Regions from separate parts of the Homo sapiens genome. Here regions 2 and 3 are each linked to region 1. Evidence: fine-mapped expression QTL. A gene starts in region 1. Each other region holds a variant in brackets. All regions are shown on one strand. Distances are from middle to middle.

Region 1 (8,179 bases):
GAGGGGGATGGTGGCACACAAAGACTGATAGGGTGTAACCTCTCTGAGGGATAGCTTTTTGTTGTTGTTTGTGTTTTCTTTGAGACGGAGTCTTGCTCTGTCATCCAGGCTGGAGTGCAGTGGCGCGATCTCGGCTCACTATAGCTTCTGCCTCTTGGGTTCCAGTGAATTCTCCTGCTTCAGCCTCCCGAGTAGCTGGGATTACAGGCATAAGCCACCATGCCTGGCTAATTTTTGTATTTTTGGTAGAGACGGGATTTTACTATGTTGGCCCAGCTAGTCTCAAACTCCTGACCTCAGATGATCTGCCCACCTCGTCCTCCCAAAGTGCTAGGATTACAGGCATGAGCCACCACACCCGGCCTCTGAGGGATAGTTTTTAAGGTCAGTGTTTCAGATTTGTTCTTACTCTAGGAGAGATCTTTTTATCTGCTTCTTTTCCTGGTTCTTGCTGGAAAACTAGCCAACCTATGGCTTAGCTTATATCTTTAATGAATCTACTAGTCTTCTCCTAATTGCTTTTCACCACAGCCTCCATTGTGTTTGGCATTGCCTCAGCTTGGAGGAAGCCTCCTCCTTTCAGCTGTACTGGCCCAGAGCTTTGCCTCTGCCGCAAGGGATTGGGGGCAGAATGAGAAATGCTGACATCTTGTTCCTTCCAGGCAAGCAGGAAGACACCATAGCTCTCCAACTAAGAGCTGTGTGTTGCGGGTGGGTGAGCCAGACAGAGCTCTGTGTTCTTGGCTGCACCTGTCTGGAGTGGAATTTCAGTCACTCTGAGGTGGAACTAGGGGAGGAGAGAGTAAGTCGTGGTTCAAATACCACAAATTTTCACTCTTCTTACTGAGTTCTTGCAGATTTTCTTGAGTAAATGTTTCATTTACTCATGCCCTTGGGACTATTACCAGAGAATTTAAATTGTTGGTTTCTTAAAAAAATAATGTTCACCAGTTTCACTGGGGAGCAGGTCCAGGAGCTACTCATGTCACCATACTGGAAGTCGAAACTTAACAGAAATTTTTATACAAACTTCAATTGTTTCTGAATTGCTCTGCTACAGAACGTAAGGCTATTATGTCTATGCTAATGGCTTAAGTATTCTTAGATATAGGTGTCTCAACTGAAACTTTCTGTTAATTAATTAATTAATTATTTTTTGAGATGGAGTTTCGCAATTGTTGCCTAGGCTGGAGTGCAATGGCACGATCTCGGGTCACCACAACCTCTGCCTTCTGGGTTCAAGCAATTCTTCTGCCTCAGCCTCCTGAGTAGCTGGGATTACAGGCATGCATCACCATGCCTGGTTAATTTTTGTATTTTTAGTAGAGATGGGGTTTCTCTATGTTGGTCAGGCTGGCCTCGAACTCCCGACCTTAGGTGGTCCACCCACCTCAGCCTCCCAAAGTGCTGGGATTACAGGCGTGAGCCACCACGCCTGGCCTTTATTTATTTATTTTGAGATGGAGTTTGGCTCTATTGTCCAGGCTGGAGTGCAGTGGCACAATCTTGGCTCACTGCAACCTCAGCCTGCTGGGTTCAAGTGATTCTCCTGCCTCACCCTCCCAAGTAGCTGGGATTACAGGCACGTGCCACCATGCCCAGCTAATTTTGCATTTTTAGTGGAGACAGGGTTTCACCATGTTAGCCAGGCTGGTTTTGAACTCCTGACTTCAGGTGATCTGCCTGTCTCGGCCTCCCAAAGTGCTGGGATTACAGGTGTGAGCCACCATGCCTGGCCTTTCTGTTAATTTAAAGACAAGTGTTAGGAAACTAACTCTGGGATCAGACAAACTTTGGTGTATAATTCAGTTCAGCTAAAGCAAACCACTTCATCTCTCCGATCTTCAGATTCTTCATCTATAAAATGGAAATAACACCTACTTCCTCTTTGTAATAAAAACTCAAGAATTTATTTGGCTTATGTGGTTGCCCAACTAGAGGCAATTTTCCCCAGCTATGCTTATAGCTCGTATAGTCATAAGACTAAGAATTAGCTAATAGAGTGTGACAGAAGCAATCTCTGCAACTTCCAGATCACCGTTTGTTTTTTAAATTAGGAAATTACATGCCTTCCTCCTTTTTCTCTCTCTTTCCTGTGGGTTGAAATGTAGAGGTGATAAAATGAGTGAGTTTTTGTTGTGGAATGAAGATAACACCATAGGGTATTACAAAGCAATAAGACAGGAGGAACTTGAATGTTGGAAGCATTCTTTTTCTTTTCTTTTCTTTTCTTTTTTTTTTTTTTTGAGACAAGGTCTTCTTCTGTAGCCTAGACTGGAGTGCAGTAGCACAATCATAGCTCACTGCAGCCTCAACATCGTGGGCTCAAGTGATTCTCCTGCCTCAGCCTCCACAGTAGCTGGGACTATAGGTGAAAGCCACCATGCCCAGCTAATTTTTTCTATGTTTTATAGGGACAGGGTCTCACTAGATTTCCCGGGCCATTCTTGAATTCCTGACCTCAAGTGATTCTCTTACCTGGGTCTCCCAAGGTGCTGGGATTATAGACGTGACTCACCATGCCTAGCCTGAGTGCTGGAAAAGTTCTGTACTTTGACTTGGGTGGTGGTTACACAGGTGTATACACACATAAAAATTGATTGAGCTATTCTTTTAAGATTTATGTGCCTATTGCATGTAAGTTATACCTCAGCAAGAAAAAAAAGATAGAAGGAAGCTGATTCCTGGAATGCCCTTGTGGAGTGGAAGTCACCTTGGGACTGTTACAAAAGAGAAAAACAAACTCTTATAGTGTTTGGGTCATTGTCTGTAGGGGCGTTTTTTGTTCTAGCCATTTAATGTGTACCTTAATCAATATATTTATTAAGGGTAGGAATTTTTAATTTTAATTTTGACTCCATTACCCCATTACAGAGCTTGGTGAATAGAAGGTACCCAATATCTGTTTAATGAATGCATGTTTTTGTAGATGGCTTTTATCAGCATGTTAGAACATCCAGTATAAATAAATTTAGAAAACAGAAAAAATTACGACATGTAAAGGGAGGGACCTTCTTCCCCGACTTCCCAACCCACCTGACTTCTGAGTACTTCCTTTCAGTGGGATCTGGTGCAGCAGTTTTCAACTTGCTTAAACAAATGACAAGAACGTTCTGAGACAGGAAATGCTATCTGCTCGGCTGATGGTGCCAGCGTGGGGGTGAATGTTAAATGGAGTGCTTGGGGGAGACCCCTGATGCTCATGTCCCCACGACTCAGAATCAGACGCAGAATCACAGTGCTCTAGGTGCTGTTAGGCTCTAGGAACTGGGGGGAACGATCCCATCGCCAACCCTGGAGCAAGGCAGTGTGTTGTAAGAGGGGATGCTGCCGGGAGTGCTCCTGAGTCATTAAGGGAAGGCTGTGAACAGGAGGAGGAAGGGCTGACAACACAGCCCACACCCTGCTGAGCCTCCAAGGGGATGGCTCCCTCGTGCAGTCAGCAAACATTCACTCTGGGAGGACTGGGGGCTCGGCTGCAGAGAGGAGCGGCACACCCACCGCCTCTGTCCTCAAGGAGCTCCCGGTCCAGCTGCCCCCGGACAAATCCTATGTTACCAACAGTATAACAACGCAATTTTATTTACACCGACTAGATGTCCAGCACCTATCAGTAATACGCTATTTTATTTTCACAAACATCTGGCTCATAGATAATGTTTATCGATGAGAAAACAGAAATTTGAAGAGGCAAAGCAAGTTGCCCAAGGCCAAGGGAGAAGGTCAGCGTGAACTGCTACCGCCATGTTGAAGTTCATCTTCTCTTCACTGCGAGAAGCTGCCTGGACACCAGGGTGGAGGAGCTGTCAGGGCCCTCACTGTGGAAGGTGCTGGCAGAGGGTGGGGAGGTGTGGCCTGAGAGGGGCGTCCATAGTCCCTGAACTTGGCCTTCATGAATGAGTGGCGATCCAGTCAGCAGACAAAAGGTGGAATTGGAGTGAGAGTAGGGGGTCATTCTAGACAGCAGGAACAATGTGTGAGAAGGCCCAGAGCAGAGAAGGCAAGGCATGTGGCAGCTTGGTGTCACGGAAGCCTGGGGTGGGCAAGGGGCTGGGGAGGCCTGGGAGTTGAGGCCAGGGAGGCGAGCAAATGTCTGGTGGGGCCTCCCTTTGGGGTGAACCCCTACACTGGTCCAGAGGCAGAGGGTCGGTTGTCTGTCAATAGGATGAAATTCCTGTTAGTCGGGGTGCCCACTCATTCACTGAGCACGAGCAGGGGTCTCTGCGGGGCCTGGTGTTGGCCTGTGGCTTGGTGAGACACCCTCTCTGGAGGGGCACCCAGACTCTGTGGTCCCTGCCTGGCCCCTCCTTCTATGTCACCTTCCTGGGGTACCACAGATGCATGCCAAAGACCCCCACTTCTCAAAGTACGTTTCATGGCACACTGAGTTTTTTTGAGGAAAAAGGTTTGTGGTAAAATAAATGGAGACAAGGGGGTGATTGCCTCCTCCTTCTTGGAACTTCTTGCAGGTTAGCTTGTTCAAGTCTCTGAAAAGTAAAATGGTTATGGACGTTGTGTGTGTGAGTGTCCCAGTGTCCCAGTGTCCTGGGGCTGCTGTAAGAAAGCACCACGCTGGGGCTTGAGCAACAGACATCGATTCTCTCACAGTTCTGGAGGCCGGAAGTCTGAGATCCAGGAATCGGCAGGGCCGTGCCCCATCTGGAGGCCTAGGGAGGGTCCTTCCTGCTCCTCCAGCTGCTGGTGGCTGACAGTCCATGGCGTCTGTGACGTCTGTGGCATCCGTGGCACCTCAGGCTTGCTTCTGTCCTCATGTGTCTCTGTGTGTCTCTCTCCTAAGGACACAGTCACACTGGATTAAGGGCACACCCTAGTGCAGCAGGACATCTTATTTTAACTAATCACATCTTCAGCAAACCTGTTTCCAGTGAAGGTCACCTTCTGAGGTGCTGGTGAGGCAGGAGAATAGGGTTTGGAGGCGGGGAACCTAAGGCCGTTTCAAGCCGACTTCCTAGAACTGAATTGAAAGGAAACACCTAACTTTCCAGGACTAAGTAACAAAAGGACCAGAGGCTACTCCCTGTGCAAAACCCCCACCTTTTCTGCACCACAGATGGGAAATTGGTTTTCCGCAACCAGTCAGACTGATTGCCGGGCCGCTGAGTCTTCCTTTGCATAGAAATGCAACTTTGCAACTTCATCTTAGCCTCTGATTGGTTGCTTTTTGCAGCCAATCAGATGTTTGCACAGGAGCGTGATCTTGGTAACTTCATTTCAGCTTCTGATTGGTTGCAGAAAGCAACCAATTGTGGGCCAGCACTTCATTTACATAATATGATCACCAAGTGGCCAATGGGAAACGTGTAGAGAGTATTTGGACCCTAGAAGATTCCAGATCTGGGCTCTTGAGCTGCTGCTCAGTCCACTCTCACACTGTGGAGTGTACTTTCATTTTCAATAAATCCCTCCTTTCGTTCTCTTGTTGTTTCATTCTTTCTTTGCTTTGCTGGGCGTTTTGTCCAATTCTTCGTTCAAAAAGCCAAGAACCTGGACAGCTTGCCGTCACGACCCTCTAGTGGTAACACTGGGGGTTAGAATCTCAACAAAGCTTTCGGAGGGGGCACGATTCAACCCATGACGCTTCAACCTGGAATTTCCCACAGAAGTCATTTTTTTCCTCAGAACTCTTTCTGAAAATGCCCCCTCCCCACCCGCCCCACCCACCATCCCTCAGACCTGGTGGCTGGAGCAGCTCCCTTTGGGAAATGCTTCCTGTGGTGAACAGGATGGAGCTCCCCATGGGGACAGGGCCGTAGAGGAGGCCTCTAGGGCAGGAAGGGGAGTCCGGCGCCACCTGGGGCCCTGGCAAAGGAGGCGGCCGCAGAACGGGGACACAGGAGGGAGGAGGGTGGGGACCTGTTCATCAAGCCCTCCCTTCCCAGGCCGTCCTGGGCCCAGGGGCTGCCTGGTGGCTTCAAAATGCAGCCAGTGTGGGTTGGGCCGGGTTGGGTCCAGGATGTCAAACTCCCAGGAACTCTGTCTGCCTCATGACCTGGTGTGGAGGCCACCGCTGAGCAACGTCCAGTGTGTCCTGGTCACATCTGGGCCCGCACCACCTCACAGGCTCCCGGTGCGAAGGAGTGGGCGGCCTTTTCAGATTCGCCAGAGCTGGTTTGCGGAAGCTCCCAGAACAGACCACGGTCTGTAACAAGCTTACTTCCTGCCCATGAATTTTTCCCTCGACAGGGCTTACAATTAAGTCCATACCCCCGCCTCCCGCCTGGCTTTCACTTCCTTGCTTTTGGAGAGAAGATGAATGGAAATGTATGACTTTGTCTGTGGTATAAAGACATGGATTCAAGTTCAGGGTTTGCCATGGACCTGCCGTGTGACCTTTGGTAAGATCTTTCACTTCATTTTCACATTTATAAAACAGAAGCAATGATAATACTGGCCCTGCCGGCCTTCCGCATGTGTCTGTGGCTGTGGCGAGTGACACGAGCATGAGAAACAGCATCATGAGCATGATAACAGCCACTTTCCTCATCTCCATTCTGTGCCAGCGACTGTCATAGAGGCAGGGGCTCTAAAAGTTCCTCATCAGGTACAGTGCACGCATGCACCGTGTGTGTGATAGAAATCTTTATTTATAGCCCTCCATACAAAAATATGGCATTTAGTCATGGATTAATCAGCAGAAATTGGTATATATAGTGCTCTTTTTCTCTCATTTTAGTGATAAGCTTTTGCTAAAAAAAAAAAAAAGGAGGAAACCATCACTGAATATGGTAATGATAATACTTAAAAAATTTTAAAGTCAGGTTTGTTGAGGTGTAATTTGCATACTGTGAAGTTTAGTTGGACAGTTTTGTAAGATTTGCAAAATGTATAGAGTTGTGTCAACACCACCACAATCCACAATCCAGACAGAATATTTTCATCACCCCCAAGCGATCACTCTCATCCCGTTTGAACTCAATCACTCTTCCCATCCCCAGCTCCTGGCAACAGTGGCTTAGATTTCTGTCCTTAATGGTTTTGCCTTTTTCTGAGTGGCACATAAAGGCAATCATACAACAGCCTTTTGTATCTGACCTCTTTCACTTAGATTATACCTCTGAGTGTGATCCATGTTGTTGACTGTGTCCGCCATTCCCTCTTTTTCCTTGCCGAGTGGTATTCCCTGGTGTGGATATGCCAGTGTGTTCATTCTTTCACCTGCTGAAGGACATCTGGGCTGTTTCCAACTTGGGTCTATTACAAATACAGCTCTTCTGAACATCTATGCAGAAGTCTTTACATGGACATCTATCTATACATTGTTAACATTTAATTTAATTTAATTTTAAGTTCCAGGATACATGTGCAGGATGTGCAGGTTTGTTACACAGGTAAACATGTGCCATGGTGGTTTGCTGCACCTATCAACCCGTCATCTAGGTTTTAAGACCCGCATGCATTAGCTATTTGTCCTAAGGCTCTCCCTCCTCCTGCCCCCACAACAGGCCCAGTGTGTGTTGTTCCCCTCCCTGACATGGACATCTATATTTTTTCCTCTAGGAGTAGAATGGCTGGATCTTATGGATCTTAACTTTTTTTTTTTTTTTTTTTTTTGAGACTGAGTTTCGCTCTTGTTGCCCAGGCTGGAGTGCAGTGGTGCGATCTCCGCTCACCGCAACCTCCACCTCCTGGGTTCAAGCGATTCTCCTGCCTCAGCCACCCGAGTAGCTGGAATTAGAGAACCGCTCCCCTCCCCAGGACTTTCACCCCACAACTCACAGCCATCAGAAAAGGCAGCTGTGGAACAGCTGTGGAACAGGAGCACTGGCCTGGGAGTCTGTCATCATGTCACCTTTCTGAACTTATTTTTCTTCTCTGTAAACCTGGAATAGTTGTCATCTCTTCCATCATCATTAGGAAAACTAAGCTGGAAACTGCATATAACTTTGAACACAAGGCCTAGCAGAAACTGAGTTCCCTCATAACAGATCACTCCCTCCCTGGGTTGTCTGCGTGATAGAAGTTTATTTCTCTCTTGTTTTTGGATCTTTCCAAAACAAAATAATGCACAGGATTGCTGAGATGGGAACACAGCAATGCAGGGTACAGAGCTGCTTTTGACTTGGGAAACACCAGGAGAACCTCATTTAATGAAATACCCACTAATGTCCACCATGTGTCTAGGTGCTAGGAACACATGGTTATGACATCGGGAGAAGAG
Region 2 (8,179 bases), 810 kb after region 1:
CTTTGTCCCTGCCTCCTGCCTCCTCCTGGACTCTATGCAGAGGAGAGAAGATGGGGCGTGGCTTCCCCCCAATGCTGTGGTCGTCGAGGTAAGCAGATTTGCCCTGCCCTGCCCTGCACTGCCGCTCTGTTCCTCCAGGACGGCTGGTGTTTATGTGAACATCCTGCTGCACCTGAGGAAGGGACAGGTGTGGTGAAAGCCAGGCTTTGTCATCCAGGTGCCCTGGCTTGGAATCCTGGCTCTGCTGCTTCTAAACTGAGCTGTGACCTTGCCCAAGTTGCCTTGAGCCTCTCCCAGCCCTGGGCTCTTCATCTTTAAACTGGGGCTGATGACGCTGCTTTACCAGCCCAGCATGGGGGTGAGTGAGGTGAGCTCGGAAGAGTCTTCTTACTTTTCTCATAGCAGCTGCATGAAAGGTGGATTAGAAGAAGCTGCCAGGCAAAGTATCCATTTAGTGAAAATTCAGTGTGAACTGTACAGTCTGTGAACCTCTGGCAGGTATCACGCTGTCTCTTGTGATCCGAATGGCAGCTCTGGGTCTGGGCTGGCTTCTGGAGCTGGAGCCCCCACCCTTCCCAGTGCCAAGGCTGCTTCTGACGTAGTAAGCAGGTGTGTCTGCTAGAGCAAGGGCCAGCCAGGGTGATGGACTCTCTTGTCTCCTGGGCTCAACCAATCCTCCCACCTCATCCTCCCAGGTAGCTGGGACTACAGGTGTGTGCCACTGCAACCAGCTAATTTTTTTTTAAAGTTTTTGTAAAAACAAGGTTTCTCTATGTTGCCCAAACTGATCTTGAACTCCTAGCCTCAAATGATCCTCCTGCTTTGGCCTCTCATAGTTCTGGAATTACAGGCATGAGCCACTGTGCCCAACTCTCTTGTTTTTGAAGGAAGAACCAGAGTAACACAGAGCTGGAGGGTGGTTGGCATGGAGTATTGGTGCCAAAGTTTTCACTGACCCGTGGTGAACAAAGAAAATAAGACAATGTTGTGGGGTAGATATGTTCATGTGACTTGGCCCATTCAAATTCCCTGGGAAAGACTATTATTTATCCTGGGAGAAGGCATTTTCTATTTTGGGGAGGTTAAAGTATCTTTTATGAAAAGAAAAATACTTTCCTTCCATCCCTCCCTCCCTCCCTCCCTTCCTTCCATTGTTTTTCATTTTTTAAGATTAAAAGTTGACAACCTTATGTCAGTTACCACGCATGCTCCCTGAAATGAAAATTGTAAAAGATTATTGTCTTTTCACTCATTTGCTTATTCTAGTAATAAATATTCACTAGGCGACACTGTGGCCGGCACTCTTCTAAGCACTGGAAATGAGCCGTGAATAAAACAAACATCCTGCCCTCCTGGAGCTTACAGTCCAGGTGGGGGAGAAAAGAATAAGCAAGTGTCTAAGTAACATGCATGTCAGATGGGGAGAGGGGTTGTGGAGAAAAAGAAAATGGGGAAAGGCAACGGGGAGCCCGAGACGGGAGGATGACGTAATTTTCAATGGGGAGGTTGGGGAGGTCACAGAGAAGGTGACATGTGAGCAAAGACTTGAAGGAGCTGAGGAGTGAGCGGAGGCCTCAGGAGGTGTCAAGGGTCCTGAAGCTGAAGCATCTTGGCAGGTTTGAGGAATGCCAAGAGGCCAGTGTGGCCAGAGCTGAGAGGACGGGAAAAGTGGGAGGAGATGGTGTGAGAGCGGTGTGGAGGCTGGCGGAGCACAGGCCAGCATGGAGGCATTGGCCTCGACCCCACCTTGGGGTGTCATGTTAAGGGGACCCACCTCCTGGGCTTTCGGGGCAGGGCAGACATGATGGACCTGTTGGGAGGCTGTTGCAATAATCCAAGTGGGAGGGGATGGTGGTTTGAACTAGGTGGTAGCAGAGAAGGGTTTTGAACCATTTACTCGAATAAACTCTTTAGAATTTTATTGTGCCTCAGTTTACCTTTTAACAGAATTCAGATGAGAAATCTAGGCTGGAGATACAACTTCAGTCCCTGAAATACAGAGTTTAAAAACTCCAGATCTGGTGCATCCTTTTGTTTTAGAGACGGGTTACCGAGTCCCCCCAGAGGGTAGCAGGTGTCTTTTCTAGGCATGCCTATGGCAGAGCTAAGACTAACAGTCACTTCCTGATTTCCCATCGAGGAATGTGTGTAAACTCAGGTACCATTTTGAACTTCCCTTTGCATTTAGATTTGGAATACACTTGGTCTTGTTTCTCGTTCCAGAGATTTCCCTCTGTTTCTCTTTTCTCAGCCCTTCACATTCTCCCCGTGCCTCTGCTTATCCAACCCCATTTCTTCTTTTGGGGTTGCATTCAATTGATAGAGCACTTGGACATCCTGGGAGACAGATTGCCACCACCAATGTCCAGTGACCCTTCCAGGCCTTGTGTAAGTGCAGCCTTCTCCAGCCGCCTGGAAACCCCCCAGCTGGTGGGATACCTACATTCTCAACCACACAGCAGCTCGCTTTTAGAATTTGGCCCCTACTTTCCATTGTGGTTATGTTGGGATGGGCCACTGGCACACAGCAAGCGCCTGGAACTTGCTGAAGAAACAGATGCAGGAATGAAATGACCAGGTGAGCGTGCCTAGGTCTTTGGTGAGCTTTGGCCTGTTCTGGGCTTCATCAATGTGCTGAGGATCCCCGACCCCGCTTTTGGCACTTATCATGTGATCACCCACAGCCCCTGGGCTGTCCCTTTGAGAAAGCCCTGCCCAGCGTGGGTGGGATGTGCCTGGAGAAGGGGGAACCAGAAAGTGGGTGGGCCCAAGAGCAATCAAGAGGTGCTCTGTAGTTAGCCCCCAGGGTGAAACAGGAGAGGAGGGCTAGAACGCTGGGTTGGACGGACTCCGGGAAAGATGGAGGCTGGTGGGGAAGGACGGTGCTGGAGGGTCTGGCACACCTGAGGCCTGTGTGTATTGGCCCTGGACAGAGGTTGTGTGGTGACTTTTGTGGATGGGTTGTCCTCGTTTAAAGGGACAGGAACAGGGTGGGTAGCCATGGCCTGGGCACCACGGGCAGAGCACACACCCGCGGGAAAGAGCACTCTCCTTCTCATGCGAGCGAGCAACGAGATGCCTGTGGCTGTGTTCCGAGGGGGTCTGACGCTCACCTTCTGCTCTCATCACTCCTATGTGAGGACCCATGAATACGCCCCTCACAGTGTTTGCAGTTGGAATGTGTGTCCATTAGTGATTAATCGATATGGGTCCTTTTGTGGGTAAGTAGAGCCCAGGCACTCACCTTTCCTCTTCTGCCCCAGCTGCTGGGGGCAGAGTTTTGTTTGGTGCTCAAAGGCAGGATTATCTGTGGTCTAGATTTCAGGAATCATTCTCTCCACTCCCTCCCAGCATTCTGAATCCTGCTCCATGTCATAGCTTTTGATCCTTTTTTTTTTTTTTTTTTTTTTTTTGAGATGAGGTCTTGGTGCGTTGCTGAGGCTGGAGTGCAGCGTGATCACAGCTCACTGCAGCCTCGAATTCCTGGGCTCAAGTGGTCCTCCCACCTCAGCCTCTTAAGTAGCTGGGACAACAGGTACACACCATCATGCCCAGCTAAGTTTTAATTTTTTTGTAGAAATGGGATCTTGCTCTGTTGTCCAGGCTGGTCTTGAACTACCGTCTTCAAGTGATCATCCCAAAGTGCGTGAGCCACTGGGCCTGGTCCTGATCCTGATCTGTTTTTAAACAATTCTATTACCCAGTTTTGTTTTTCATCATGCTTCTTGAGATCCTTCTAGGCCTTGATAAAGTATATAAGAAAATAATACTGAAAGTTTGAAATAAATACGACTGTGAGACTCTTGTAAGTTGCTCTGCGGCTGGGCTCAGGGAGGGGCAGGCGGATGTGATATCTCCTATAGCATGGACAGCAAGGCAGGGACAGGGGGCTTTGTCTCTGAACTTGGGAAGAGTTTGTTATTACTAGGATGAAGAGAATGAGACTCTGTAGAGGGGAGAATTGCATTTAGTAGGAGAGAAATACAGAGAATCTGAACAGTTCAGAGAATCTGGCTCTATCCCTGACCAAGTGGTTTTGACCAGGCCTGCAATACATTTGTAGCAATGACACCTTCCCCATAGGGCTGTCCATAGACTGCGTGAGACCCTGTGTGGATGCTGCAAGCACAGGGGTGCCCTCAAAAGTAGCCAAGCTCACCAACACTCACGGGGGAGGCAGCATTGGAGACCAGCCTTATCAGGTGGGTGGCTTGTGACATGCACTTTTATTAAATGAGGCCATGGCAGGGCCGCAGCTAAGTCTCTGCAGTTTATGGTCTGCATGGTGTGCTGGCCGAGAGGACACCGGGGGCTGAAACCCAACCTGTGCTTGACTCATCACGCCCTCCGGGCTCTGGGACTGAAGCTGGCTGGGACATTGAAGGGGAAAGGGCACCTTGTTGAAATTTGTCCACCCAGAGGTCCTCTTTGTTAATTCTGCCTGGAGGGACTCTGAGTGTCAGTGGTGGCCCAGGGAGTTGAGCCTCTCCATAGTTCTCAATGCTTCACTCTCCGACGCGGAATTCTTGTTATAGCTGAAAATATCTGCAGGTCCCTGTCTATAAATGGAATAAGAATGGAGCAACTGCTGGAGATAAAAGGACGGAGAGCTTGGAGCCCTCCCTTCTCAAGCTTCCTTTCTTTTTCCTACATCAACCCTGCCACCTCCTTGCCAGCTCCACCCTCCCTCTCCCCACAGTCACCCCAGGGCTCCTTGCAACATCCTTTGAAACTCCTAGAGGAAGTAACCTCCCAGAGCTACCACTCTGGAGTTGCAGGCTAGAATTCTTTTCAGAGCAGCACGGAGTAACAGTCTTCAGACTTCAGGACTGAGACT[C/T]TCTGCATGGCAGTGGCTGGGAGGATCCAGTTTCCACGCCCTGCTGTATTTTTCAGGCCCCGCCTGTTCCTCATTTACCCCGTAAAAGTGCAGCCCTTCGCAGAAACATCTTGCGGTCGCTCGGGTCCCGGTGTCCTGGCCCAGAAATACCCTCTAGAGGGCGCTGTCACGCTGAGACCCGGGACAGGACGCACCGGCGCGAATCAGGGCCCCTCGCCACAGGGGAGTGTTGACAAATGGAAAATGAGTTAATACATACAACATTTTCAGCCGATAATAAGAGAGTTTTGTTGAAATTCTTGAGTGAATTCTCTTTATCTAAGGATAAGGTGATTTGAGTTTCAAAACAGTTCAAAATAAAGGAGAAAGGGACTTGGCTAGTCGGTTTCTTCACCTGATTTGACCCAGGCAGAAATTGAGTTATTAATAGCCATTTGATAGGCACTTCGCAGTTAATGGTGAAGCAAGACGGGATCAAGTTCTAGTTTCTACCCAATTAGAAATGCCCACTGGGTGAGAGGTCACCAGATACAAAGAAAAGGAACAGCAAGTCTTCTATGCTGAACACTGAATTTGAGCAGCCGACTTGTATAATGGTATTTTGCAAACACGACTTATTCCAAATTTATGGATAATTCGAAGTGCTTCGAAAATGAACAATGTCCAGGTTGATTATTGTTTTTGTTTACCGAGTGCTCTCTCTCCATGCCAGGGCCCTATGAGACATTTTCCATATTTTGTCCTACCGATCCTTGTAAGAAACACACAGGTGATTCTTAGCCTCAGTTTACACATGGAGGAGCTTTGAGAGATTAATGAACTGCCCTGGTCGTTTCAAAGTATTCTGATTTTTTCGCATGAATTGCTGATGGCTAAGGCTTTGCCATCTGGAAGTTCTACAATGGACTTTTGAGGCTTAGTATATTTGTCTTCAATATCATCTTGTTGGTTTTAGACCTGACGAGGTCCTTTCAGATTTTGATTTTGTTATCCAACATACTGATTTTGTGACTTTTAAAAATCTGACTGACTTGCTTTCTTTTCTTGACTTCTGTTGAATTTATAATTTTAAAATATAATTTTTCTATCCTCTTTTCTGTTTTTGCTCAGTTAATTCCATAATCACAGAACAAAATTATATTCTTTTAGTGGTTCTCCTTAGCTTTTGAAAACATACCTATAGGCTGGGCATGGGGGCTCATGCCTGTAATCCCAGCACTTTGGGCCGAGGCAGGCAGATTGTCTGAGGTCAGGAGTTCAAGATCAGCCTGGCCAACATGGCGAAACCCCATCTCTACTAAAAATACAAAAAAATAGCTGAGTGTTGTGGCGGGTGCCTGTATTCCCAGCTACTTGGGAGGCTGAGGAGGGAGAATCTCTTGAACCCGGGAGGTGGAGGTTGCAGTGAGCCAAGATCGTGCCATTGCACTCCAGTCTGGGTGACAGGGTGAGACTCTGTCTCAAAAAGAAAAGAAAAGAAAACATACCTGTATAACAAATATTGTCTAACACAGTTTGAATTTATTTATTACTTCTATACTCCTGCCAAACAGGGCCTAGGCCTCAGCTCACTTTGAAAACCATTGGGTACACCCTTATTTTATTAGTCTTGTCCAGAGTTTTAGTTTTTGTTTTAAAGAAAACCTAAAAATTTCAGTTATTGTTTTCAGTAAAAAAAAGAAAAATGTTAATTATAATATGTCCAACCTCTTGTATCTTTATCTACACTTTTTGCATCCCAAACCTTTTGTCTCAGTTCATGATTTCATGGTTCTTCTAGGGACTGTCTATGGAAGACAAATTCCTTTAGTTTTTGTTTATCTGAAAATGTATTTTTTTTTGCACTTTCTTTTCTTGAATGGTGGTTTAGCTCATTATAAAATTATAGGTCAACAGTTGCTTTCCCTCAATATTTAAAAAAGCATTAGTCTTCCATGAGACATTTAAATATTATCCTTTGCCATGTGTGCTCTGTGTTTCACTGTAATGTGTAGGTGTAGATTTATTTTTATTTACTCTTCTTAGTGTTCAGAGTCTGCTTTTTTACTCATCACTCGTTCATCAATTTTGGAAGATTCTCAAACATCTTTTCAACAACTTCTTCTTTGTGATCTCCTTAATTCTCCTTTCTGGCACGATTAGACACAAATTTGAACCTCACTGTATCCTCCATGCCTCCTAGCTGCTGTTTTACTTCTTTCTTAATCTCTTTGACTTGCTGTGCCTGCTGGATGCTTCCTTACTATATTTTACTTCATTAATTCTCTCTTTTATGTTTCCTGTTAGGTTTTATCTACTATATTGATATTTATGTTTTAATTTCAATGACTATGTTTTTCATTTCCAGTATTTCTAATAGATTCTTTTCCTTTATTTCATTGTTTAATTTTTGATATGTTTCTGTTTCATAATTTCTCTTTTTAATGGAGGTTATTCCTTAATCTGTGTCTATATGTATCTCAATTATTCTCATTTAACAGTCATTATCAGATTGTTCAATAACCTGATAATGACTGTTAAATGAAAATAGGATACATCATGATGTAAGTCTATATTCCAAATATTTATTTTGTGTGCTGTCCTTAGCATTAGACATTTTGCTTGAGGGCTCATTTTGAGTGGATTTAAAAATCTTGTTGTGGTTTTTTTTTTTTTTTCTCTCTCCTTTAATACCCCTCACACCAACTCCTAGTCCTTTGTTCTCTAGCAACAAGGCTGGGTGATTTGAGGGTCCACCCTCAGTCCTGTGGTTTGTAGTTGCCTCCCCAGGTCCGGGGGCACAGTCCAGAGCCAGGCCTTATAACAGCACTTCCAAGCTCCCGTCTTACAGTGATATGGGGAAATCTGGGCTCTGAATGAAGCAGCCTTTGGTTTCCTTCCTGCTTGAAAGGTTGGGTCACTTCCCTCTATTGCCTTGGCCCTAAGCAGTAGGGCTGCAGACATGTTTAAGCCTCTTTTCACCAGCATAGGAAATCCCTTCCCAGGATTACCTTCAGTGTGAAGCCTGGCTCCCGTGTCCCATCTATGCTTTCCTCCTCAGGTGCTGACCTCCAGCCATTACCTCTTTCCAGGCCAGAGACTGTGCCGGGCCTGTGGCTTCAGCTCCATTCACCATGCACACTTCTAATCTGTCTTTGGTTCTTGCACACTGACTGCTGTTGGAGCCCGGCTATGTCATATTTGCTTATCCATTGATATACTGTGGGCTTGGATCAGAGGGGGTGATTCAAAATACAAGTTCACTATACCATCTTGACCATGAGCCACAAGCATGCTTTCTCTCCCACTTCAATATTGATCAAATATCTAAGAAGGAAAGAAAGAATAGAGCCAGTGGCCTGG
Region 3 (8,179 bases), 26 kb after region 1:
ATGTTTGATGTAATTTGTACCCAGTAACAGAAAATTGATAGACTGTGTATCATTCTGACCTTTGGGCAAGACGGAAGTCAGGGATGTAAATAAAAGCCTTCCTTTCACATTACATTTTTTTTTTTTTACAATAAATAGATAACAATTTTGCAATTAAAGTAAAGGAAAATGGGAAAGGATTTGTTTCTGAAGAGTTTTCTTCAATCATTTTGTTTACTTTCCTAGTGTGCTTTAAAAGCAAGCACAAAAGCCAACAGCAGCCCCACGCCCCACTACTCCAACCTGGCAGGCCACAGGCAGGAACATTTATCCTTCTTGGTCTTGTTTCCTAACTGCTTTTCTCTCTTCCCAGATCTCAGGCCCAGAGGGGTCCTACCCGCAGCCTCTGGGGCAGCTGAATGCGCCCAAAGCCTCTGACATCTTTCTACACATCTGGGGTGTGTGGCAACCCTGTCCCGGTCCTCCCACCTGCCTGCAGGCAGGATGAGTCATGGCTGAACAGAAGCCATGGGAAGCAGAGGCAGAGGCGAGCAGACTTCAGGAAACGTGCCCACCTCGGGAATGGGAACAAGGAAGTCACCCCTCCCGCTCTCCTCCCCCTGCTCTTCTTGGCCTTGGCAGGTTCAGCAGCTTGTCGATTACAAAGCTGTTCATGCCCAATAATGTATTTGTTCCTATAAGATCTTATAGCCAGGAAGGAAAGAGTCATTAGCTCCATTTTACTGATGAAAAAATTGAGGCATAGAAAAGAAAAAAAATGCTTAGAAGCTGGGGTGAAAAAAATGAAGTTTCCTGATGATTCAGTTTGACATCCTTCTCTACCCACCTCCATCCAGCACCGCCTCCCACCCAGCTGCCTCATGCACTTGACTTCCAGGGGCCATGGTATTCAGACAGGAGTAGACCAGCTGGGTCTTTCTGTCAATCAGCTCTTCTTGGTGGAGGTGGGGAAGGGGGATGATGAGGGGAGGGGGATGATGAGGAGAAGGAGCGGGGGTGGGGACGGGGCAGCTCCCTGATACCGATGGGTACACAGCAAAAAATGAAATGTAAATTTTCAATGGAGTACAGAACTGAATCTTTTTTTTTTATTTATTTATTTTTTATTGATAATTCTTGGGTGTTTCTCACAGAGGGGGATTTGGCAGGGTCATAGGACAATAGTGGAGGGAAGGTCAGCAGATAAACAAGTGAACAAAGGTCTCTGGTTTTCCTAGGCAGAGGACCCTGCGGCCTTCCGCAGTGTTTGTGTCCCTGGGTACTTGAGATTAGGGAGTGGTGATGACTCTTAACGAGCATGCTGCTTTCAAGCATCTGTTTAACAAAGCACATCTTGCACCGCCCTTAATCCATTTAACCCTGAGTGGACACAGCACATGTTTCAGAGAGCACAGGGTTGGGGGTAAGGTCACAGATCAACAGGATCCCAAGGCAGAAGAAGTTTTCTTAGTACAGAACAAAATGAAAAGTCTCCCATGTCTACTTCTTTCTACACAGACACGGCAACCATCCGATTTCTCAATCTTTTCCCCACCTTTCCCCCCTTTCTATTCCACAAAGCCGCCATTGTCATCCTGGCCCGTTCTCAATGAGCTGTTGGGTACACCTCCCAGACGGGGTGGTGGCCGGGCAGAGGGGCTCCTCACTTCCCAGTAGGGGCGGCCGGGCAGAGGCGCCCCTCACCTCCCGGACGGGGCGGCTGGCCGGGCGGGGGGCTGACCCCCCAACCTCCCTCCCGGATGGGGGGGCTGGCCGGGCGGGGGGCTAACCCCCCCACCTCCCTCCCGGTCGGGGCGGCTGGCCGGGCTGGGGGCTGACCCCCCCACCTCCCTCCCGGACGGGGCGGCTGGCCGGGCGGGGGGCTGACCCCCCCACCTCCCTCCCGGACGGGGCGGCTGGCCGGGCGGGGGGCTGACCCCCCCACCTCCCTCCCGGACGGGGCGGCTGGCCGGGCGGGGGGCTGACCCCCCCACCTCCCTCCCGGACGGGGCGTCTGGCCGGGCGGGGGGCTGACCCCCCCACCTCCCTCCCGGACGGGGCGGCTGGCCGGGCTGGGGGCTGACCCCCCCACCTCCCTCCCGGACGGGGCGGCTGGCCGGGCGGGGGGCTGACCCCCCCACCTCCCTCCCGGACGGCTGGCTGCCGGGCGCAGACGCTCCTCACTTCCCAGATGGGGCGGCTGCCGGGCGGAGGGGCTCCTCACTTCTCAGACGGGGCGGCCGGGCAGAGGTGCTCCTCACATCCCAGACGGGGCGGCGGGGCAGAGGCGCTCCCCACATCTCAGACGATGGGCGACCGGGCAGAGACGCTCCTCACTTCCTAGATGGGATGGCGGCCGGGAAGAGGTGCTCCTCACTTCCTAGGTGGGATGGCGGCCAGGCGGAGACGCTCCTCACTTTCCAGACTGGGCGGCCTGGCAGAGGCGCTCCTCACATCCCAGACGATGGGCAGCCGGGCTGAGATGCTCCTTACTTCCCAGACGTGATGGCGGCCGGGCAGAGGGGCTCCTCACTTCCCAGACTGGGCGGCCGGGCAGAGGGGCTCCTCACAACCCAGACGATGGGCGGCCAGGCAGAGACGCTCCTCACTTCCCAGACGGGGTGGCGGCCGGGCAGAGGCTGCAATCTCGGCACTTTGGGAGGCCAAGGCAGGCGGCTGGGAGGTGCAGGTTGTAGCGAGCCGAGATCACGCCACTGCACTCCAGCCTGGGCACCATTGAGCACTGAGTGAAGGAGACTCCGTCTGCAATCCCGGCACCTCGGGAGGCCGAGGCTGGCGGATCACTTGCGGTTAGGGGCTGGAGACCGGCCCGGCCAACACAGCGAATCCCCGTCTCCACCAAAACCAGTCAGGCGTGGCGGCGTGAGCCTGCAATCGCAGGCACTGGGCAGGCTGAGTCAGGAGAATCAGGCAGGGAGGTTGCAGTGAGCCGAGATGGCAGCAGTACAGTACAGCTTTGGCTCAGCATGAGAGGGAGACCGTGGAAAGAGAGGGAGAGGGAGACCGTGGGGAGAGGGAGAGGGAGAGGGAGAGGGGGAGGGGGAGGGAGAGGGAGAGGGAGAGGGAACTGAATCTTAATGAAAGGTATTATTCAATTCAGCAAAACACAAGGAAATTTTAACTGAGCAGAACTGATTAGCCCATAAAAAGGAATAGATTACAGCTTGCATCATTTGCCGTCTAGACAAATCACTTAGATACACAGGCACTGGTTTTAATTACTGCCATAGAAATCTAGCATTCTGTAGCCCAAAATGGTATTGTTCAACAAATAAAAAAAATTTTTAATGAGAAAATGCAGCTCAAACAACTACTTCCCATTATGCCTAAATAAACTGTTCCCCCACCCTTTATTTAAATAAGAAACCCGCAAGGTAAAATTGCTGCTTCTTCTATGTCTAATAGATTTTGTGCTCTACGTCCCTTCCCCCATGGCATCATGAAATGTATAATTCTCATAGAAGGTCTATGCTGGACTGAATACATCACAGCAAGAAGCTTTCCATTTTTAGCCAAAAAGTTCAGACTTTTTTTTTTTTTTTCTGGTTTAACCCTTCAGGAAATTCTAAATGGATCCAGGCTGCTGGCTCAAGTTTCTATGCAACAATGACCTTCAGTGAGAAAGCAGCATGTTGATTTTTCTCTTTTTTTCCTAATCCATGGGATCCCAGCCTCGCCTTTCCAAACAGGATCTATATGGTCAGAGGACAAAGGGCCTGTTTCCAGAGCTTTGAGAAGAGGAAGGCAGAGGCGGCACTTAGCAAGTGTGAGGGAAGGAGAACGTACTAGTCAGCTTGGGCCGTGTAACAAAGCACCACAGACCTCAGGCTTCAACAATAGGCATTTATCGTCCAAGATCAAGGT[G/T]CTGGCAGGTTTCATTTCTTTGAGGCTTCTCTCTTTGGCTTGCAGATGGCCACCTTCTCAATGTACCCTCACGTGGTGAAGACAGAGAGCAAGGTCTCTCTACCTTCTTCTTCTAAGGCCACTAATCTTGTTGGGCTGGGGCCCCAACTTTATGGCTTCATTTAACCTTCATTATCTCATTAAAGGCCCCATCTCCAAATAGCATCACATTGGGGGTTAGGGCGTCCACGTACGAATTTGGAGGGGGTGGTACAAAAACATTCAGTCCATAACAGAGGCAGTAGTACAGGCTTGGGGAGAGCACTGGGCAAGGAGTCAGCCAACCTGATCTGCAGGCTCCGTTTGCTCTGGCCTGGGAGGACAAGTGGAGTTTGTGGGATTCCAGGTGTGGGGCACTCTGGGCCTGGGCATGTCAGTAGACCAGAATGTGGACTTGCCAGGGTTTGATGAGGAGGTGGGGTGTGCAGCATGCAGGGGTAAAGGGAAAATGCCTGTGTCCTGACCGTGGAAGGAAGACCATCCTCTGACCCCCAAAAATCTCTCTAGCCACGGCCCAGCCCTGCTCAGTTCCCAGGTGCTTTTCACCTCCCATCAGTCTGCCCACAAGTCTGGGGCATGCCCAGGGGACCATGTCTTTCTCACCGCCACGCCCCAGACACTGCTGAAGCCTGGCTCTGTGGGACAGCTGAGCAAATTAAGGCTCATCAGAGACCATGAAGGTCCTGTGGTTTCAAAGTTATGTGGGTTCTGTTTGGGCATAATGAAGCATTTTCTCATTCCTTCCCTCCACATGCCTGCCTAGCACCTGCATGTCCAGGCCCGATGCTGGGCACCGTCACAGAGAAGAATAATCCAGATTGTACTGGGGCTGGAGTTGGGGGCAGACAAACCAGTGGTGCATGAACTGACCCTGTGCCATAGGACAGCTGAGGGCTCTGTGAGCACATAGGGAATGGGCCCTGATCCCTTGGGGAAAGGAGGGCTGGAGAGGGGTGCAGTCCCTGGAGACCTCCTGGAAGTGGTGACACTGAGGACTGAGCTTTGAAAGGGTGGAAAGAATGACCCCAGGGACGGGTGAGGGCAGCACTGCAGTAGAGGGCACAGTTAGCGTGGAGCATGCAGAGACCAGTGCAGTGCGGGGCCTGGAACCCTGGTGGGGACTTTCCTGCCTCTGTCTATGCTACTGCCTTGTCTGCCTGGGAGGCCTGGCCCTACTCCTCACTGCCCACGCCCACCTGACCTGGCTCAGCTTCCCCAGACTCCATCTGCCCAACATGGCAGCCACTGACCACAGGGGATTATCACCACAATTTGGCTTATCCATGCAACGGATATGATCAGCCATAAAAAGGGATGAAGTACTGACACATGCCATGCACCGATGAACGTTAAAAACGTTAAGTGGCCAGGCGCGGTGGCTCACGCCTGTAAGCCCAGCGCTTTGGGAGGCTGAGATGGGTGGATCACCTGAGGTCAGGAGTTTGAGACCAACCTGGTCAACATCGTGAAACCGCATCTCTACTAAAAATACAAAAAGTAGCTGGATGTGGTGGCGTGTACCTGTAATCCCAGCTACTAGGGAGGCAGGAGAATCGCTTGAACCAGGAGGCGGAGGTTGCAGTGAGCCAAGATTGTGCCACTGCACTCCAGCCTGGGCAACAGAGTGAGACTCTGTCTCAAAAACAACAACAAACAAACAAACAAACAAAAAATCCATGGTAAGTTGTAAGTGAAAGATACCAGTCACAAAAAGTCATATATTATAGAATTTCATTTACATGATATTCCTAGAATAGGCACATTCATAGACAAAAAGTATTCTAGTGGGTGTCTAGGGCAGGGGGAGGTTGGGGGTCATGGCTAAAAGGTGTGGCATTCATTTTGGGGGTAATGAAATGTTCTAAGATGAACCAGTGCTGATAGCTGCACGGCTCTGAATACACTAAAAGCCACTGGTGTATCAATCGTATGGAATGTGAAGTGCATCTCAACAAAGCTGTTAAAAATCAAATATAATTGAAATAAAAATTCAGCTACTCGGGTGCACTAGGCCCATGCCAAACACTCAGCAGCCATGTGCAGCTGCGGCTACTGTACTGGATAGTGTGGGTAAGGAGCCCTTCAGTCATTCTGAGAGCTCCACTGGACAGGCTGGACCTCCCTGGACAGCCAGGCCTCCCAGATGTCCCCTTGGAGGCTCCCAGATGTCCCTTCAGTCACTGGCCTAGCAGTCATCTTTCACAATTGGCACTGCTTTGAGGTCTCCACACAAATCCTCTAGCTCTGCAGATGTAGCACCTTCGTCCATCTCATCTCTGCTCTGTTCTCAGCGCCCAGAACAGAGCCTGGAATGCAGTAAGAACCACCCCTGCCGGTTCAAAAGACGGGTGCATGCACCTTCTCTGTGAGCTTTCCCCTAGGCCCCACGCTGATTCAGAGCCTCCCTTTTCCAGGGTAGCCCTTGCACTTGGCTCATACATCTCCTAGCAGCTGGTCCCCACCTGCTCTCCACCTATCCCAGCACCTGGTCACCACCTGTCCCAGCACCTGGTCCCCGCTTGTCTCAGCACTGGGCCCCCACCTCTCCTAGCACTTGGCCCCCACCTGTCCCAGCATCTGGTTCCTATCTGTCCCAGCACTTGCTCCCCACCTGTTCCAGCACCAAGTCCCCACCTGTTCTAGCACTGAGTCCCCACTGTATTCTGTAGCCCCATCACCGTGTACTGTGGCAGTCTCCTTATTCCACAGATGAAAAATTGGAGGCTTAAAGAAGTTACAGCTTGCCGGCCCGGCGTGGTGGTTCACACCTGTAATCCCAGCATTTCTGGAGGTCGAGGTGGTGGCTCACGCCTGTAATCCCAGCACTTTTGGAGGCCGAGGTGGGTGGATCACGAGGTCAGGAGATGAGACTATCCTGGCCAATATGGTGCAACCTCATCTCTACTAAAAATACAAAAATTAGCCAGGCATGGTGGCGCATGCCTGTAATCCCAGCTACTCAGGAGGCGGAGGCAGGTGAATTGCTTGAACCCAGGAGGCGGGGATTGCAGTGAGCCGAGGTCACACCACTGCGCTCCAGCCTGGACGACAGAAAGAGACTCCAACTCAAAAAAAAAAAAAAAAGTTACAGCTTGCCTAAGGCCACATGTGTTAGTATCTTAAGACTGTCGTAACAGAATACCACAAACTGGGGTGGTTTTAAAACAACAGAAATTTATGCTCTCACAGTTCTGGGGACCAGAGTCCAAAATCCAGGTGTCGTCAGGGTTGGTTCCCTCTTGGGGACTCAGAGGGCTCCATGCGTCTCTCCCATCTTCTGGTGGCTGCCGGCAGTCCCTGCTGTACCATGGCTTGTGGCAGCATCACTCCAACCTCTGCCTGTGTTGCCACGTGGTGTTCCCCCTGTGTATCTGTGTCTCTTCTTACAAGGACACCAGTGATTGGATTTAGGGCCCACCCTACTCCAGGGTGATCTCATCTTCACTTACATCTGCAAAGACCCAACTTCCAAATCAGGTCACATTCACAGGGGCCGGGTTTAAGGCTTGAGCATATCTTTTGAGAGGACACAGTTGAACCCACAGCCTCATACCACCAGTAAGTGTCAGAGCTTGGCAAGGCCTCCACCTGTAGCCTCTCTGTTCACTATGCTATTCAACAAATGACAACGTGTGAATATGTAAGTCCATGTCACCCATTTAACAGCCCGGGAAACTGAGGGGCACATGAATGCCAGCCTTCTGCTCCCCCATCTAAGGATACAGGGCTGATCCTCACAGAGCAGGATTTGTGTCTCTGCCTCTTCTCTTCCCTCCCCTGGCTTCTGGCTGCAGGCTGGTCTCGCACCTCCAGCCTTGACCTGCTATTTACAGCTGTTTCTTTCTCTTGCCCCTGTTGTCATTGGGCACTTGCTCTCCTGTGGGCTGTGTGCGGACATTCTCTCTGCTGGGCTTTGCATCTGCTGCCCCTCCCCTCCCACTTCTGCACCAGACCAGCTTTCTCCCCACTGGGCCTGGGATTTGCTGAATGGACTTGGAGTCAGAGTCAGCCTCTGGCTGCTATGACCTGATTCAAGCCGTATTTATTTTTCCACGTCTGATATTCTCTGTTATTTTCTAATACTCAATACGTTAATTTCACAGCCAGCTACTGAGCCACGACCTAAAGTATGAAGTGCTGACTTGTGGTCCAGATGCCTCCAGGGCCGCTGAGACCCTCCGGGGTCTGTTTCCAGCTGACTCCACCAGCCTCAGGCCTGCCAGCCTCACCTCCAAACCGTGTGGCCCTTTCAGCTGAGCAGGCAGGTGGCACTCAG

Evidence for each region. PIP is the estimated chance that this variant, and not a neighbour inherited with it, causes the effect.
Region 2: its variant is fine-mapped to the expression of LINC01954 in Th1 cells (Schmiedel 2018, PIP 0.95).
Region 3: its variant is fine-mapped to the expression of LINC01954 in atrial appendage (GTEx, PIP above 0.99). The same link has a PIP of 0.9 or more in left ventricle.

The regions. Positions count from the first base shown.
Region 1 is chr2:10,874,618-10,882,796 of GRCh38, forward strand. It overlaps LINC01954 (long intergenic non-protein coding RNA 1954), which reads left to right and starts at 3,650. Exons shown (of 2, transcript NR_110575.1): 1 at 3,650-3,827.
Region 2 is chr2:11,683,606-11,691,784 of GRCh38, forward strand. It overlaps a transcript of LPIN1 not described here. Among named protein-coding and RNA genes, the nearest start is that of NTSR2, 18 kb to the left of the region's middle. RefSeq lists an enhancer at 4,306-4,805. The variant C/T (reference allele first, on the strand shown) is at 4,838.
Region 3 is chr2:10,900,864-10,909,042 of GRCh38, forward strand. No RefSeq gene overlaps it. Among named protein-coding and RNA genes, the nearest start is that of KCNF1, 7.0 kb to the right of the region's middle. RefSeq lists enhancers at 1,006-1,576, 8,116-8,179. The variant G/T (reference allele first, on the strand shown) is at 3,865.